2 separate regions of the Homo sapiens genome follow, and region 1 is linked to region 2. Evidence: fine-mapped expression QTL. A gene starts in region 2. The other region holds a variant in brackets. All regions are shown on one strand. Distances are between the middles of the regions. Region 1 overlaps SESN3 (sestrin 3). Region 2 holds the start of SESN3 (sestrin 3).

Region 1 (8,743 bases), 57 kb before region 2:
GAGCAGAGGAGCCACGACTTTCAGCCTGCTGTTGAATTGTGCTACTAAGCAAATGTGATATACTATTTACATAACAAACATTATTGTTATGTACTGTTTAGTCCATGTTAAGACCATCTCTTTGCATAAAAGCAGTTCTATTAAAGAGAAGAATTTAAGGTCTTGCTTTCCAGAGAAATGATTTAGAATTGTCTTTAAAATACAACCTAAAACACCTTATTTTGCTAACACAGTGCAAATCATTTTTATAATATGCACTGAAATTTATTTTTTCCATGAGGAATTGTCCTTAGAGTTCAAAAGAATCTTACCATCATATAGGCATGCACCCTCCCTCCACTAAAAATGGTGTACTATTTTAAGTACAGATCTTTAATTGTTGATCATTTTATTTTGCTGTGGCACAGAAATCTAAGATTTTGGATTTAAAAAAAAACTTTATAAGGGGGAAAAGGAAAAAGTTGCTCTGGAATAATAATTAGCTTTTAGAAGCATTTAAGATCTTTAGGAGACATTATAACAACTAAATAGGAGCTCTGGTTCAAATTTTATAGGATTCTTATATAAAACTTATATTGAGTTTTCTGTTGTAAAAACAGCCCTGTGTTTCTCTGCCATTATTTGGGCTTACAACCATAATTAAAGGCCAAGGCTATGCCCCAGATTCCATGTTAGCCATCTTTTATTTTAAAAATACCCCAAATGGGACAAATTCATACTGGGACTGAGACAATGTACTTAGTTCAAAAAGGGGAAGGAGGTAATAAGCTGTCTCAAAAGCCTCTTTTCCCCTAATAGTCATATATCCACCTGAGGAAGCCTCGTCTGAAGAAGCCAGTGAGGCACCTGCCTGGCTACTCCCATAGTCAGGTGGGTTAAAGAACAGATTATTTTCAGGTGGGAGAGTATCTCAATATTTCTTAAGGTGATCTGAGAAATTATAAATTACCATTGAAGCTGGAAATCTTGAAATTCCAAAGTAAATAGACATTATTCAAGCATACACATCAGTGGACTATGAAGACTAATTTTAACATAATAAGCAAAGAATTAAAGAATTCACATTCACATGTGCTTTTCTCACGTACACTTGCACATTTAAGTTTGGCACAATGTGAGCGCAAGGTGTAGATCAGCATATTGCATAATCACGTCATTATACCAATTGAACCAGATATCTCTTTTAAAAATATCACATTTTAATATAAAAAGCTATACTATAAATTACTAAATAGTAAATTCAATACTCTGAAAAAATACCACCCTGGAAAACCGCATCAGAATTTCAAGTTTGCATTGGATAAAGAGAGTTAACAGCAAACTCGTTGTAAAATGGTATTCACAACCTGAAATGCTGTGCATGCTGCGTATTAGTAGGTGCTTTAGCACCTGCAGAAGTCAATTTTTCTAGGCTGGTTCACTGAGGTTCATAAATATATGGTGTTGTTTTTGTTTATAGTTCCAAGTCAACTTATTTTCCTATTGATAAGATAGATCAATGCTGAGCTAAAAAGAAACTTTGCAAGGAAAGAGATCTATTAAAGGCACTAATATTTCCATAGCCTAAACTCCAACTACTTACATTTCCAGGGAAAAAAATAAACACAAACTAAGTGGCCATTTTAGTTACTTAAACCTTGTTTCCCCTTTTGGTCTAAAGCTCATATGGTGTTCTGTGAGAATTTCTCCTCCTTTTCAATACATACAAATCATTTTTTATCCTGTTATACAGTTCGCCTGCACAAAAATATAGGGCTATTAATTGAAAGCATCTAGTAAAAAAACAAATTCAAGAATAAATGACATCCTCAACTTGAAAGTTGTGAAGTTAGGTAAGTCAAATGGACATTTATGTTGCCATTTGTGTTTTGCCATTCTCCTAAATATTTTCTTTGTATTACATATCTACATAATGTAATATTGAATAAAAGTTAACATATGGCATATGCAATAAAACAGACGAGATATGGCACAAGTTCTCTGAATAATCTCTTTAAATAAACCACCCTGTCTTTAAAAATATTAGTAATTTTTTCCTCACATGGAAGATTTCAAACAGGATCCTGGAATCCAAAAATGCAGAACTACCTTATGTTAATAAGTATACAGTCATATTTGTTTTCCTATCTGGAACAAAATCTAAAAGAAAGCAACCCAATATATTGTACCAGAGGAGGATGATAAATGGAAGAGGAAAATGATTTCATGAAACACTAGTTCACGATTCTTTCACAAAAGAAAAGTTAAATCTTATATCACAAGTAAGTCTAAAATGAAATATTTGCGGGAACTCTAACAGAAAATTTTATCTATATTATTTACTATGAAAAATGGATAAGTTTTCAAAAATTAGCATGTATGTGTACAATTCAAGTCACCCTTAACTAACCAAAAAGTGTTTAAAAAGCAGTGCAGTTGTGTCCTACTGGATAGTTGTAAGCATCTCTTTAGGCACTTCACTGGTTCATTGACATAATACAAATTAAAGCTATAAACACATAATGTGCTCTCTGAAGATAGTCTAATCAAGCAACGTAAACCAATGCAAAAATGTGACTTTTTGGCCGCTTATTCCTCCCCTATGACTTAATAACGTTTTTAAACCAGTTGTCCAAGGAGATTTTTCTGGGGAAGGGAATGCTTTGGCATTATGAAAGGAACATTGTTCAATCCCAGAAAGGTAAAACTGAAAAAAGCCTGTGCAATAAAGAAATTTGAAAAAAATTTCTTTATGGCTCTGTTTAAAAGGACACTTTTGCAGTGATATGACAGGGGGAAAGTTTAGTTGAGTATTTTTTGAACATATTGCACTCTGTTTTTGTAGTTCAATCACATTAATGCATAGAAACACAATTTTTACCTTTGAAAAATAAACTGTCTAACCTATTATAAGAACAAAAGTCATGGAAAATAATTTCTAAAAGCCTAACAGGAAAAATAGGCATATTAACCTTCCTTTGCTTAACGAAATATAGAAAAAAACTATGAGAAAGGAAAAATGTGCAAAGAAAATTTTTGGTCAGTCTTGTGTGGGTACAGGTTTATATGTGCCAACTAAATGAACTGTAAGCAGCACTGTGAGCACTGATTATTTAAGGTGACTGAGGATTACTGTCAGTGATAGGATTGTGTTATAATTCCACTTATATACATCTGATATGGAAAACTGAAACTTCCATTTTAGAAGAGAAAGAAAATAGCTGAATTTGGCATTTCAGTAGCATGCTATAGAATTCATCATGATTAATTTCACATTAAATTATGGGCAATAGCTGTATCACATTTCATGTTATCGCCAATAGCAGTAAAACAACAATAAATGAACAAACAAACAAATAAAAAACAGTGCCTGACAAATAATCTCCTGGGGACACAAATATGTGTCCAGTGAGCAGCTTGGTTCAACAGCGCATGCTTTTCCTCCACCAGATTTAGGACACAACATTAAAGTTTTAGAATGGCCAGAGAGGTCACTCTTTGCTGAATTCCAATATCTGAAAAACAATTGCTTGAGCAGATTGTAAGCACTTGTCCTTATTCTTAAAAAAAAAAGGGCGGGGTGGGGGGAGAAAAAATACACATACACACAACCCAAAGGCGCTGAAGTTAAGCATTAATACGCCAGATTCATGATTTATGATCAGTATCCAAAACTCCAACTACAAACAATGCAAAGTAGTGCTCCTCAGTATTATTTTTGCAATTGTTAGTAATGTTAAGCATCAAGGAAAATAAAACACATCATTGCACATTACAGCCGCAAAAAACAAA[A/C]AAAAAAAAACAAACGGCTAAACTTTGACACTAGAGAACTGAATAATTTTTGATGCTATATCACAAATAGCTTCAATGTTTATCTTATGTGAAAGGTCTTTACACATGTATGACATTTTCCTTGGGTGATACTTCAGGTCAAATGCCGAGTTATGGCACGAAGAGCATAAAGAAGTTCAGCTTGCATTCGTGCTTCCATTAAAAGTAGATTGACATGAACCTAGAAGTGAAAATGTTATCAGTTTAGTAACCATTATAAACACCTGGAAAATCTTATTAGACATTCACAAAGGTTTTTTTATGTGTATATAAGCAATATACACACACACACACACCTAGGCATATTTATCCATGTTCATGATGCAACACTCAAACCTGTGTCTAATGGCTCTGCAAGCAGTAAAAATAACCCATAAAATCTAAAAAATTCTGATAACTTTATTAAAGTTGTTATTTTTGTAAAGTCAATCTGTTGGGTTATAAAATAAAACTAATTTTTATAAATTATAATTTTCCTACAAATTACATTTCTTTCTAGTTATAAAATTTTACATGGCTAAAAATCAGCCCTCATTTTTTTTTTTAACAGTTTATGCTTATCCTGTGAAAAGCTTTAAAAAATTTTTCCTAGTATTTACTTAAAAGATACTAAAGTGAAAATCTGATGTTTAAAGTTTCTGATTAGTGTTTGATACTTGTTAGACATACATAGCTTCCCTAGAGTCTTTCAGATAAAATTCTGCAGAACATTTCTTTCGGGGTTACATCTCGGCTGATAAGTTAAAATGGGTATCCACAAGTTTTCAAAATTTACTATAAAAATATGTTTTAATATTATATTCTTTTGATATATTTATACCAGTTGGATATGTGGTTGGATATATTCTCCTGAAGAGTAAAGAGAATTTCTAGATACAATCTAGAAAAGGAAGAAAATCTAGAGCAAACATATAAATATGGGATAAAGACCCATCAAGGGGAAATGCTGGATGTAAAATGGGTATTTACCTGATGTGAGTGGCTCTAAGACTTCAAAAAATCTGTTAGGTACTGAAGCCATAACATTCTCTGCTAAGATCATACAGTTTATTAGCGAATGTTTCCTAAAAAGATTTTCTTACTTTCAAGCTTCGAAACTGTTGTATAAAGGAGATTCTTGAACTTAAAGGTTAAAAGTCCTAGGACTTAAGGCCAGCTCTTATACTATGATGTTGATAAAGATCCTTAACATTTATTAGGTTTTCTAACTTCATGTTGCCTATATATTTCTTTCAAATAAATATTTTTATGTAACAGTATATTTGGCTCAAAGGTCCTGAATTATACTGTCAAAACACTAAATTACCAAGTTTGGGTAAAAATCTATTGTCTTTTTTTCGAGAGATGAAGTCTTGCTCTGTTGCCCAGGCTGGAGTGCAGTGGAGTGATCTCGGCTCACTGCAACCTCTGCCTCCTGGGTTCAAGCGATTCTCCTGCCTCAGATTCCCAAGTAGCTGGGACAACAGGCATGCACAACCATGCCCAGCTAATTTTTGTATTTTTTAGTAGAAATGGGGTTTCACTACATGTTGGCCTGGCTAGTTTTGAACTCCTGACCTCAGGTGATCCCCCCACCTCGGCCTCCCAAAGTGCTAGGATTACAGGCGGGAGCCACTGCACCCAGCCACTATCTGGGTTTTTAAAATATTTTTTTAATTCAGATTTATTGACTAGTAACCCAATTTTGGTTATATGCTTTGTTCAATATAGCATATAAAAGTTTATCGTAAGCCTTAGAAATACTAGATCTGAGTACTGATATCTTCAAAGCACATTTGGAAAACTGTCTACAGTTCTAACTATTAATAAAAATCAGACATACTGAAATGTTGTATTAGGTATAATTGTATTTTGGCCCAGAAGGCACATCCATTTCGAGATTCTTTAACCACTAAAGTTAACCTATTAAGACAACGGTTTCTGCTGGGCACAGTGGCTCCTGCCTGTAATCCCAGCACTTTGGGAAGCCGAGGTGGGCAGATCACCTGAGGTCAGGAGTTTGAGACCAGTCTGACTAACATGGTGAAACCCCACCTCTACTAAAAATACAAAAATTAGCCAGGCGTGGTGGCAGGCACCTGTAATCTCAGCTACTCGGGAGGGTGAGGCAGAAGAATCACTTGAACCCGGGAAGTGGAGGTTGCAGTGAGCTGAGATCGTGCCACTGCATTCCAGCCTGGCAAACAAACAAGCAAAAAAACCCCAGATAGCTAGATGATGCCACTTCCATGTCAATGGCTATAATTTATTAATACTTTCATGTGTCATTTTTCATAACTATTACTTCTTGTACTGAAGAACTGTCTATGGTATAATGCTTAATACTGAAACACGTACTTTTTCTGAGTGTTTGAACTGCCGCCAGTAACTATCATACATGCGTTTTGTAGTTCTCTCAGGATAGCAGGTCACTGTCTTAATGTAAACCTTCAGGCTTCTTTCAAGTAATTGATTAACTTCTCCATAATCATAGTCATCATACCTACGAGCAATACAACAATAGCTTTATAATGACAAAATCAAAATATTTAGTTTCCAAAGTTATACTAAGGACATTTATTGTCTAGTAATTAAATACTAAAAGCTCGTTAATTAATTGAATCAACAAATGTTTACTGAGTACCCATTATGTGCCATGAGTACTCAGTAGTAGTGATATACTAGTGAACAAAACAGACAAAAATCCTTGGTCTCATGGAGCTTAAATTTTGTTGAAGAAAAAACGAAGAAAAATTAAAAAGATAAACACATTGTAGTCAGATGGTGATAACTGCCATGGAGAGGAAATGGAACTTGGTCTGGGAGGAGAGGAGTTGTTATTTTAAATAGGGTGGGCAGGAAGGCTTCTCTGAAAGCCTTGATATTTGAACAAATACCAGATGGTGGTAAAGAAGCAAGTGTAAAGGACTTGAGGTAGGAGTCAAGTGTTTCAGGGAAGAGCAAGTAATCACTGAGTCCCATGCTGCCAAATAGTCAAATAAGATAACTGGGAACTGACCACTGGAAGTAGCTATATGGAGGTCACTAGCAACCTCGGTAAGAGCAGTTTTGTTGGTTGATAGGGACAAAAGCCTGATACTGTGAATAGGTTCAAGAGAGAATGGGAGATAAGAAAATAGTGACAGTAAATATACACAATTTTGTCAGAGATTTGCTTCGCACGAAAGCAGAAAATGAGGCAGTAGCCAGATGGAAATGAAAGGTGAAACTGAAATTTTCTTTAAAGATGGGAGAAATTAAGTGTGTTTCAATGCTGATGGGAAAGATCCAAAATGGGAGTAAAGCTGATTATGCTGGAGAGAGAAGGGAGCATTGCTAGAACTGAGATCTTTAGAAAATGAGAAATGGGATTTTGTGCATAAGTGTATAGGAACATAGACAGTAATGACAGCAGAGTAAATGGGCACAGATGTAGACAGGTAGGTAAATGTAGTATTGGGAACTTGTGGAATTTCTCTGTTACATTTTCAGTTAATTTTTAACCCATATAATGCTTAGTTTAATAAAAAGAGTATCTTGATGCATTTATGTAAGCTTTATTTTGTAGCATCCAACAGATATATTCACCACATTTGTTGCCTTGTATCCAATACATATTTATTGCATTTAAATTGAGTTTTATCGGTGTTTATTTTTCTTAAGTAGGTAGATATGATATATATGTGTTTTAAAATGTATTGATTCTTTGATAACATTGTCTAGCATGGTAAATGGACAAATAGCTCAGTTATTACATACAACCATAATCTATTACATGGAATATCGTGTTATTAGGCGATTTATCAGTAAATTTTGGGGTTCTTCAGCTAAAATTATAGAAAATACTTTGCTTAACCGATTAAATTCTAATTATCATAAAGTCTGTCTGATATATATCTATATAGTCAAGTTGAATAATTTGTAACTGGAAAGTTTTTCTGTCTGCTAATCTATTTCCATAAAAGCCTCAAAACCACAACTCAAAAAGGCACATTCTCCAAAAAGTGCTTTCTTGATTAGACTATTCAATCTCATGTACTTACTGTCCTCTCAATGCTAATTTTCTAAATTTAGAGGTCATTAATTTATATTGGCTGATATATTTAATTTCAGTGTTATGTGACCTTATGTAAGCTTATGAAGGCACAACCTAGTACAGTTTTGTTTATACCGTAATTACCATTCCTTAAAAAATAAGTTTTAAAAAGACCAAACTAACTAAACAAACCAGAATTTATTATAGTGATCTAAAGGGACACTACACCTGTTTTTTTAAAACTCACCTGTTCTTCCAGGAAGGATTCTCAAATTTGGTCTAATTCTATCCTATCCCCAATCATTACTGATGCTTTTTTCCCTCAGTAAATTTTTACCACTATATTTACATGTGCATCAATGTTAAGATTCATAACACTTAAAGAAAAATGCTTCTCCATAAAATGAAATTAATTTTTAAAATCAGAAGTCTACATGTAATATTTTCTTCCCAGAGTCATATACTCCCAAACAGGACAAAAATAAGACTCATGCTTGAATTTTCACTTAGAAATGTAAAAAACTGTCTCTACAATGAACATACCTGATTCCAAACATACAGTGAACATAGTTAAATAAAGCTCTGCGCAGCATGGTTGTGTCAACATCCTCATGGGTGGCCATAGTGTTATATGTGAGATTGTAGACCATCCGAAACTTTTCATCAAGAAGATGTCCAATGTCAGAATAAAGTCTGTTCACCAGGGAGAACCCATGATTTTCCCAGGTATAGTCCTAAAAGAATAAAATGTATTTAATTACAAAGTGGGCATTTTCCATCTAAATTCTATGTATTATTAAATATAACTAATGAAGCAAGTAAGCGAGGCTATTTCTAATTTAGCTCTAGGTTTTCAGCTTTACTAAGGCTTTACCAATAACCCTTCACATCAGTTAGTAGATCAGAGTGTCTGGATGT
Region 2 (8,743 bases):
TGTTTTCTATTTATTTAGGGTGGGGAGTTGGGGGAAGCAGCAGAACACTTTTTACAAATTAAATCTTCTATTGAACCTGAACTATAAAGCATATAAATATACCAAGCAACTTTCAAGTATTTTAGTAATAAAGTTACAACTACTGATAACAATAAATTTGTGTTCTCACAAGTAAACATTTAACTTAAGTAAATATGGAAGGAATTCTTTTTAAAAAGCCAGTTCCTTCACAATCAATGACAATCTTTCTCATACATGACACAGTAACAAAAAAAAATTCAAATATCTGTACAAAGATAGCAGAACAAATTGTAATTCAAGACCTGCACAAGAATAATTTTGTAATGAAAGATAATGGTGTTAGACTCCAGTTATTAAAATTATGTGTACATATTTGGGGGTACCCATATTTTTAAATTACAGTTTTAAAATAAGTTAAAACATACTTAAAAATTTAATGCAACTCAAGCATTTTAAAACCCCAAAGAATCTTAAGGGTCCATACGAAGCAGTTTGAAAACCATTGCATAAAGGTTTGCCATCACTAATTAACTACTTGATCTCTGCTTAGGATATTTAAGATAATCAAGTTAAAAACTGCCTTTGACAATCAAAAATATGTAACACAAGAAAACTGATTAACCAAGGCATAATGTAACTAGTGGTCCACAGATAGAGCAAATACATTTTATTGGCTAAACCATATAAAGTTGCTATTACTTAACAATTTTGACTATAAAAATGAGGCTCATATAGTTCAATCTAGTATTTTTCTTTTTTTTTTTTGTCTTTTTTTTTGAGACAGAGTTTTGCTCTTGTTGCTCAGGCTGCAGTGCAGTGGCGTGACCTTGGCTCACCACAACCTTGGCTCACCACAACCTCCGCCTCCCAGGTTCAAGTGATTCTCCTGCCTCAGCCTCCTGAGTAACTGGGACTACAGGCACACGATTCCACGCCCAGCTAATTTTTGTATTTTTAGTAGATATGGGGTTTCACCATGTTGGCCAGGATGGTCTCGATCTTTTGACCTCGTGATCTGCCCACCTTGGCCTCCCAAAGTGCTGGGATTACAGGCGTAAGCCACCATGCCCGGTCCTCAATCTAGTATTTTTCATTTTGACAGTATCTTTGTTTATAAAACCATCAAAAAGATGTCAAAATATATGATCATATAACAAAGTGAAAAGTGCAATAACAATACAAAGATATATCACTATAACTATCTTAACATTAAAAAAGTTTAAATGTTAGATCCTCTAAAGAGCACAAAACTATTCATTTAAGTAGCACTAACTGCTCAATACCCAAAGTACATTGGAATATGCCACTTTTTTATTTACTGGAAGATGAGTGGACTGATAATTACCTACCTTCCTCAATGCAGTTTGACACATGACTTTTCAAATTAAAGGATTATGTTCTTCTAGTTATCACTAGAATTTCTTCAAGTAAAAGATTAAACTTAAAAACTCGTTAACTTTACAAAATAAATAGAAGCATTTCCTCTTTTATTAAAAACTTTACTGAACTACCTCATTGACAATAGAGCAAGTTAGACTTAAGAGTTAGGGATTTCAGGATAGTTTTGATGGTTAATTTATTTATGGATATGGTTTACCTCTCCATTCTTTTTACTGTCCTAAGGTTACCAAATTAGGTACATTCAATATTTTAATAAGTCTCTTTATTTTGGAGGATACTAAATCAAAACCGTAAACGGACTTCTAAGAATAAATGTAATTCTCATACAATATATAATTCAATATTCAGGCATTGGGTTAAACCATATTATTTCATTTGAAGGTGAATTCCATTCCTTGTGAAGTTCCCCTAAAATTCAACACACTGCAACAAATTAAGCCACCTACTGAGAGAATAACACTTTCTGTCCCATATAAAGGTGACCCTTCTTCCATCATTATATAGAAATATAAAAGCAAAAGTAATTCACACTGGATGAGCATGAGTTTCATTCTTCCATTATGAATTAGACTGAACAAACATTCAAAATACTATGACTCACTTGGCTACATTACTGAACACTTTATTAAATGGAAAACAAGATAAACTCTAAGAATCACATTTTGAGAGTTATAGATGACTTTTAACTTAGAGTTATATCAACAAGAAAAACATGTCTTTATTAGAAATAAACTTTTCATTGTTATTTTAAGAATGATGAAACATTTAAAATGCTACATACTGATTCTCTTAAGAGCACTTCAAAGTGGCACTCTTTAAAAAGCTGCAAATGTTGCCAAGTCATGTTATAACTGGCTCAAAGAATCCTATTTCCATTAAGTTATTTCATGCCACTGCATGAATCAATATTAAATACCTTGGAGTTACTAAAAACTGGAATACTGGCAGAGATGTGCTCAGCAATTATAAAATACGAAAATGTGAATACTCTTTTTCCACGTTTCTTTTAATAATGGCTAGAAATGAGGATGTTCTTTCTAGGTAAACAGAAATAGTTTCCTAAAAGCTAAAGGAAAGATGTAATATCTTAAATGCTAGCAAAGTGTCATGGATCCATAGCCATAGCTCTCTCAAAAGAAAAATGAAATACATTTTGAAGCCTAATATTACCTCCAAACATTTTATTAGCCTAACAAATTGCCAGAGCCATTAAAAAATTTTTTTATCAAAGTCAATACAGTGCTCTTTTTCCTTATTCAATTAAAAAGCATAACTTGCTGTCATTTTAACCAGGCTGCACTTTAATCAAACATGTCTTAAATGACACATTTTTTCATGTCAAAGACATAACATAAATTTAAAAATTAAGAAATAAATTTTTTTGAAAGCTAAGTTCAGATGACATCTGGCCCTGCAGTGAAAGAGTTAACATCCAACTAAGCTGATCTGCACTTCTGATCCATTACATTTCTCACAAGCTACCCTACAATGAGCTGAGCAAGTATCAACTGTAATTTGATCCTAGAGTTTATGGAAAAAAATAACTGCACATACTCAACATGCACATTTAATAAAAATCTGTTTCAAGAGAAACATATCCAATAAACACAATTTAAGGCATATTTAACTGTTCAATTAACCTCAAATCTGCAATCCCTTTGCTCTCACGCTCTCAAATAAAATAGGAAGAAAAAAAAAAGCAGCAGCCCTACTGCAGGGAAAAGAGGCTTGAAAAACAACTTTGATTGGCACTTGGCCTGACCCACAGAGGAAGAAAAACAGTTTTTGGACAAAGAGCGCAAATATTTGAGCTTGCTTACTTATGTGCTTTTTTCTTTCTTCCTTTTTTAAAAAAAAATGTAGAAAGAACAATCCCAAAGTGAACCGTATTTAGAGATGTTGACTAAAAACGGTACCATATTCATCTCCGCTTTCAGTCCCGATGCATTTGCACAGCTCAGCAATTTTAATTCATTTGTAGTGAACAAACAGAAGCATCTCACCTAACGTTTCCACTTAATAAAATGTAAAAATAGAGTTTGAATACGAATAAACTGATTATAATATTACTTTGGGGCAGCTGTTAAAATCTGATCAAAAAGTCTAGAGACCTTTTTTTCATTCCCTTCCCCATCCCTCTCGCCCTTCCCCGCGGGGCGATTAAGCCAAGTAAGCTAAACAATACTGGAGTAAACTTTCTATCAGTCACTCTAGGAAGCAGCAATAAACTGATGGTGCGCCTCATTTTTCTGGATCAACACGGGGGCAGGGGGGTGCTAAGGAGGAATAACCCACATCCACCTCAGTCTTCTCCTCCCCCAACCCCAGCCTCAGGAACTGGCCAGGTCGAATTGCATTTCCCATGGGCATAAAGTTCAAGATGCTTTACTGGTTCCTTTCGAGACTGAACTACAGACACAGGACTACCATCCAAACAATTTGAAAACGGGGGTTGTTGAGCAAGGCGCGCAAGGCAGAAGCAACCGAATAAACAAAAACAACACTCGCAAGAGTTAGCCACAGCAAAGAGGGGCCAGGTTCCTCGGGATCCGACCCAGCTGCTCTGATTTCACACCGACCTCCATCAACAGCTAAACTGCACAGGGAGGAGGATCGAACGGATCCCTCCCGCCCTCCGCCCAAGGAGCCGACCCGGGGTAGCAAGGTAGGGAAATGAGCCGTAAAGGAGAGCAAAGGCACCAAATAAAAGGAACAAGGGAAGAAAAAATATCCCAACCCCTCCAGACTTGGGTCTGTCCCGGCGGAAATAAAAAGCCGCAGTAGTCCAAACCCTCCTGCCCTCAACCCACGCCCCCTTTCTCAGTCCCTGCGGAGGGACGGTGCCCGGGGATCCCTCTCAGCCTCCCCCAGTGCGCGCCCGGGGACGAGCCGCCCGAGCCCCGGCCGGCAGGAAGCGACCCTCGCCGGCAGGACCCCGGGCCGAACCCGTACCTTCCGCAGCACTTTCCGGCAGTTGGTACAGAGCAGGTAGTTGGCGGCGGCCGACGGGCTGCCGCCGCCCCGGTTCATCGTGGCTGCGGGCGCCGAGGCGAGAGCGGGCGGAGGGCCGGGTCCGGGCTGTCACTGCGGCCACTGCAGGGCCGGTCCGTCCCCCCGCCGCCAGCCGCGATTCCGCCTCAGCCTCCTCAAGGCGGGATGTCGGGAGGAGAGGCGACTGCCTGAAAGCTAGCGGCACTGCCAGAGGCGACCACCGCGGCAGCTGCCCCAGCGACGGCGGAGACGGCGGCGGCTGCTCCTCACCGGCCCGTTGTTCCACCCGCCCCCATCTTCCAGACCCCCGCCCCCGCCAGGCTAGGACGAGCAGCCGCCACCGCTGCCACCGCCACCACCGCCGCCGCAGCGCCTCAGTGCGGCCCCGCCTCCGCCGCCCCACCACCTTCACCACCTCCACGCTCCGGTACCGCCCCTCCCGCCAATCGGACAGCTCCGGCTACGCCCCCAGGGCGCTAGCCCGCAGCCAATGAGCAACGAGAGCCCGACTGGGAGTCGCGCCGGCCAATCGCAGGGGCCGAGGAAGCCTTGAATCTCCGGGCAAGTTAAGTTTATCTCCGAGGCTCGGAACTGAAGGGAGGTGGCGGTTAGCTAAGTAGTAGGGTAGCAGGGAACAGTTTGCTCTCCTCTGCCAATAAGAGGACGAGGGTGTGTCATATGCAAATATACTGCCCTCCAAGCCCCACCCCCAAGATAAGCTACGCCCCCTTCTCTAGGTCCCTGCAGAAGTGGTGAGGAGAATGAGATAAATAGTTGGGAGCTAGAGCTCGCTAGAGAGTCTAAGATTGAGCTAAATATTTCCTGATCTCTCGAGAAAGGGGGAGGGGAGTGGGAGGATTAAATGTTCCTTCCTTCAGGGCAGTGGTTAGGCTTTCTCTCCACCAAAATCTAACTTTAGCTGTAAAGAAGACTGCAGTTATGTAGTACTTTGTATCCAGGGATCTCAAAGAACTTTACGCATCATTTATTGTGAACCTTGTTTTGCAAAGATTTCAGTTACTTGAGGCTTGGGAGGCGGATAGGGGATAAATGTCTGAGTTATATATATATTTACGCAAGTAATCGAGTTTGAGGGGAGAGACACAAAACCTCTGGTTTAGCGGTTTCCTCTTGTTTGTGAAGCACCTTCTAGCAGTTATCTTAGAGATGTAAGTTCATTTACTTGTCCAGCACTAAAAGGCCAAAGGGGCTTGTTTTCTCACCCAAAAGACCTTCCTGAGGCAGCTGTTCGGATACATGCAGAGCACAGCGCCCTGCTCAGAAAGGAAGGTTCAGAGAACAAATTGTCGTTTAAAACTATTGGGACAAACCTACCTCTTCTAAAGCTTAAAATGGTAAGTCAGGGTTTTAGCGTCCACGTTCTGCGGAGAGAAGGCAGACTTGACTGGGGAAAGCGCAGGCTGACCGAGTGTGGCGGGACAGACGGGTAGGGGAGCCAGGTCTCCCGAAGGGGCTAGCAATGCGCGTCCGAGTCGAATGCGGGTTCCCGATGCTAGACGCCCGCAACCTGCTCCCGAGTGAGAACAAAGGCCGGCGCAGAGCGAGAACCTGATTGGTGCCCGGTCCTCACTCGTGTCCTCCGGGCCCCAGAGATAACTTGCATCGCCTACTGGCAAGGAGCTCTGTGCTCACTGGAGCCCAGCTCCCCACCCGGCCATGGCCGTGGCCACAGGACTGTGCATTATGACATCACCTGTTTTCGATTTTTAGAACCTAATCAGTATTCTCGGCTTCTCCCTTTTTAAAGGTCTCCAGCGTACCAGGATTTGTGAAGGCCTGAAGTTCGTAGAATGAAATCTATGTGGAGATGATTTAAAAGAACGGTTTCACTGGTTTGCATTTCTTTCTTTTCTTTTTAATTAAAAAAAAACAACAACCCTGGTTTCCTTAGGGATTCAGGGTGGTGTTATGCAAAATCGGAAAGGTACACTTGGAGGAGCTAGCAAGTTTAGCATATCAAAGCTATTAGACCAATTTGTGCGGTTAAAACTGCCATTCTCATTTCTCAACAGCTGTCTCCTCTCTGTCCCTTTTTAGAGACCAACACATATAAACCAAGTCTACACAAGAAACAAAGGTAATGGAAATCTGCTAGTATCAGGTTTAAATAGATCAAAATAGAGTAGAAAACCCCAAAAGGGTCTAAGTTATGTAGTTGGGTAAAGGTGTTGATCTATTTAGCCAGTGTTAGCTAAAGGTCGCTTGATGCTGTGTAGACATACATAACTAAAGAGCAATGAATGGTGTGGGGAAGGTGCTTAAGATTCAGTTAGAAGAAACTGTAAAAGCAAGTAAATTCAGAAAAGGAGGGAATTACCACATGCCCTTCGATGCAGAGAACCAAGAAATGCAGGGAGAAAGTCAGCAAGGCACAGTTTTTCTAAGAAACACATATGTGTCCCCATTTAGTGGTAAATTTCTTGGGCTATATTCCTGGCTGGTTCTGGCTTTTAAAGCAGATTTTATGTGAGTACATTTTAAAGGAAAGGAGAAATTGAAGGATGAAGTGAATTTTTGTGCAGATTGAATTTTCTCAAATAGAATTTTAAATTCATATTGTTTTCTAGCACATTCTTCTTATAACCTTTTCTTTTCTTTTTTCACTTGACAGCTAAAATCCTTTCGAAATGAGTTCCTTTAAGTTCTTCAGTAACTAAATCCTCCAGAAAGGAAAGCCGAGAGAATCTAGTCCTATACAATAACACCCTCTAACAAAGATCGCTAAAGGAAGATTTTAGTAGATGAATATCTTCAATAATACATGGTCACATACATGTATCTGACCATATGATGGCTCTCTGCACCAAATTCCTCCAAACTATTATAATATGTATTGTCTGTAGTGCTATTTATTTGGCAGTTAATCATGTATTACATTGTGACATTTCTTACAGTGAACCATTATGTATGTGTTTATGTTCTGCCCTCAACTACTCAATGCCAGTACCTTATTCTTAACACAGCAACCACCCTTTCTGGTCTGTCCTCACACCCTCATTCCCATCATAGTTATTCTCCTCTCTCATGGAAATGTTCAGTTTCTGGACATCTCCTTTCTCTTCCATTCTTCACCTGACCTTCCTTCCTTTCTTGGCCAGCCTGAATATTATAAAGGGAATTTTATTTCAAACCCAGGATCGCACTTAAGAGGAAAAGAAACAAAAGCCAGTTCTTTTTATTGCACATAGAACAAGGAGAAACTCCACCCCTTTTGTTGTCTGGTATGTTTAAAACAAGAAAGAACTTTAGAAAAGTAGGATATGAGTGAAAATTACAACCAATGTTGAGAACTACTTTTTAATTTTTTATTACAAAATTAGGATGATACTTCATTAAACATTGTACATCATTTCAAAACTGTTATCTCATAATCATGTTGCTTGTTTTGAATTATTCTTTTAAAGTGTAATTTTTTTAAGCAAAGAATCCATAAAATTACATGGCTTGGATGTACCATAACTTACTTAATCCTTATGCTATTGTTTAATATGTGGGTTGTTTCAGATTTTTCATGATTGTAAATAACAAAATAAACTTCCTTATACTTAAGTTTCTGGCAGAATCTCTGATTCCTAGGCCTGGAATTTCTGAGTAAAAGGGTATACATATGTCTTAAGGCTCATGGTGCAACTTGCTATAATATTTTGTGGAAAGATTTGAATAAGAACACAGGTGAGAGCAATCATTTGAAAGCTATCATTCTGCATAAGGCCCATCAGTATTCCACCTACCTCTACCTTAATCCCTTTCCCTTCTTCCTTCTGCCTGGTGAATATCTTCTGTTGAAACACTTCCTGAATCAAGCACTTGTCCAAGCATCCATAGTGCCCCTCTATACCTCTTCTTTACCAAAAAGCTCACTAGGGAAATGGTAGGTTTAACTCCTGTTTTCTCATTAGACTTCAAACCCCTTGAAGGCAGGGATAGAGTAACATTTACTTTGTATCCTTGGCTCCTAGCTCAACTGATAGGGAAGTGCTCAAAAAAATTTTGGAGAAAGTAATGAGTTTCACTCTTTATAAAAGCACCCCAATAAATGTGAATTGAATTGTTCAGAAAAATCCACTGCTTTGAAGCAGAGAGATTAGGCTCATGTTCTTACCTGTCACCAATCCTTCTCTGACATTGAATGTATTAACTATTATGGGTTGGGCATCATTCTCTCTTTTATCAAATGAAAGTTGTTACCACAAACCAGAGGTGTAGGAAGGGTTGAAGGAAAATTTTTGTGTTTAGCATGTTTGATTGAAGTTACCCTGTTAATAATATGCTGTGACTTTGGACTTGAAATTGTTTACTTCTTTAAATA

The links.
Region 1: its variant is fine-mapped to the expression of SESN3 in whole blood (TOPMed, PIP above 0.99). The same link has a PIP of 0.9 or more in lung.

Annotation. Positions count from the first base shown.
Region 1 is chr11:95,169,351-95,178,093 of GRCh38, forward strand. SESN3 (sestrin 3) reads right to left here. Exons shown (of 10, transcript NM_144665.4): 8 at 8,369-8,559; 9 at 6,148-6,292; 10 at 1-3,991. The coding sequence ends at 3,905. Among named protein-coding and RNA genes, the nearest start is that of LNCRNA-IUR, 23 kb to the left of the region's middle. The variant A/C (reference allele first, on the strand shown) is at 3,772.
Region 2 is chr11:95,226,409-95,235,151 of GRCh38, forward strand. SESN3 (sestrin 3) reads right to left here and starts at 4,794. Exons shown (of 10, transcript NM_144665.4): 1 at 4,375-4,794. The coding sequence starts at 4,452. LOC100129203 (a long non-coding RNA gene) reads left to right here and starts at 3,778. Exons shown (of 6, transcript NR_110295.2): 1 at 3,778-4,087; 2 at 4,717-5,165; 3 at 5,644-5,768; 4 at 6,182-6,266; 5 at 6,472-6,511; 6 at 7,046-7,996. RefSeq lists silencers at 4,348-4,657, 4,668-4,817 and enhancers at 5,173-5,812, 5,813-6,452.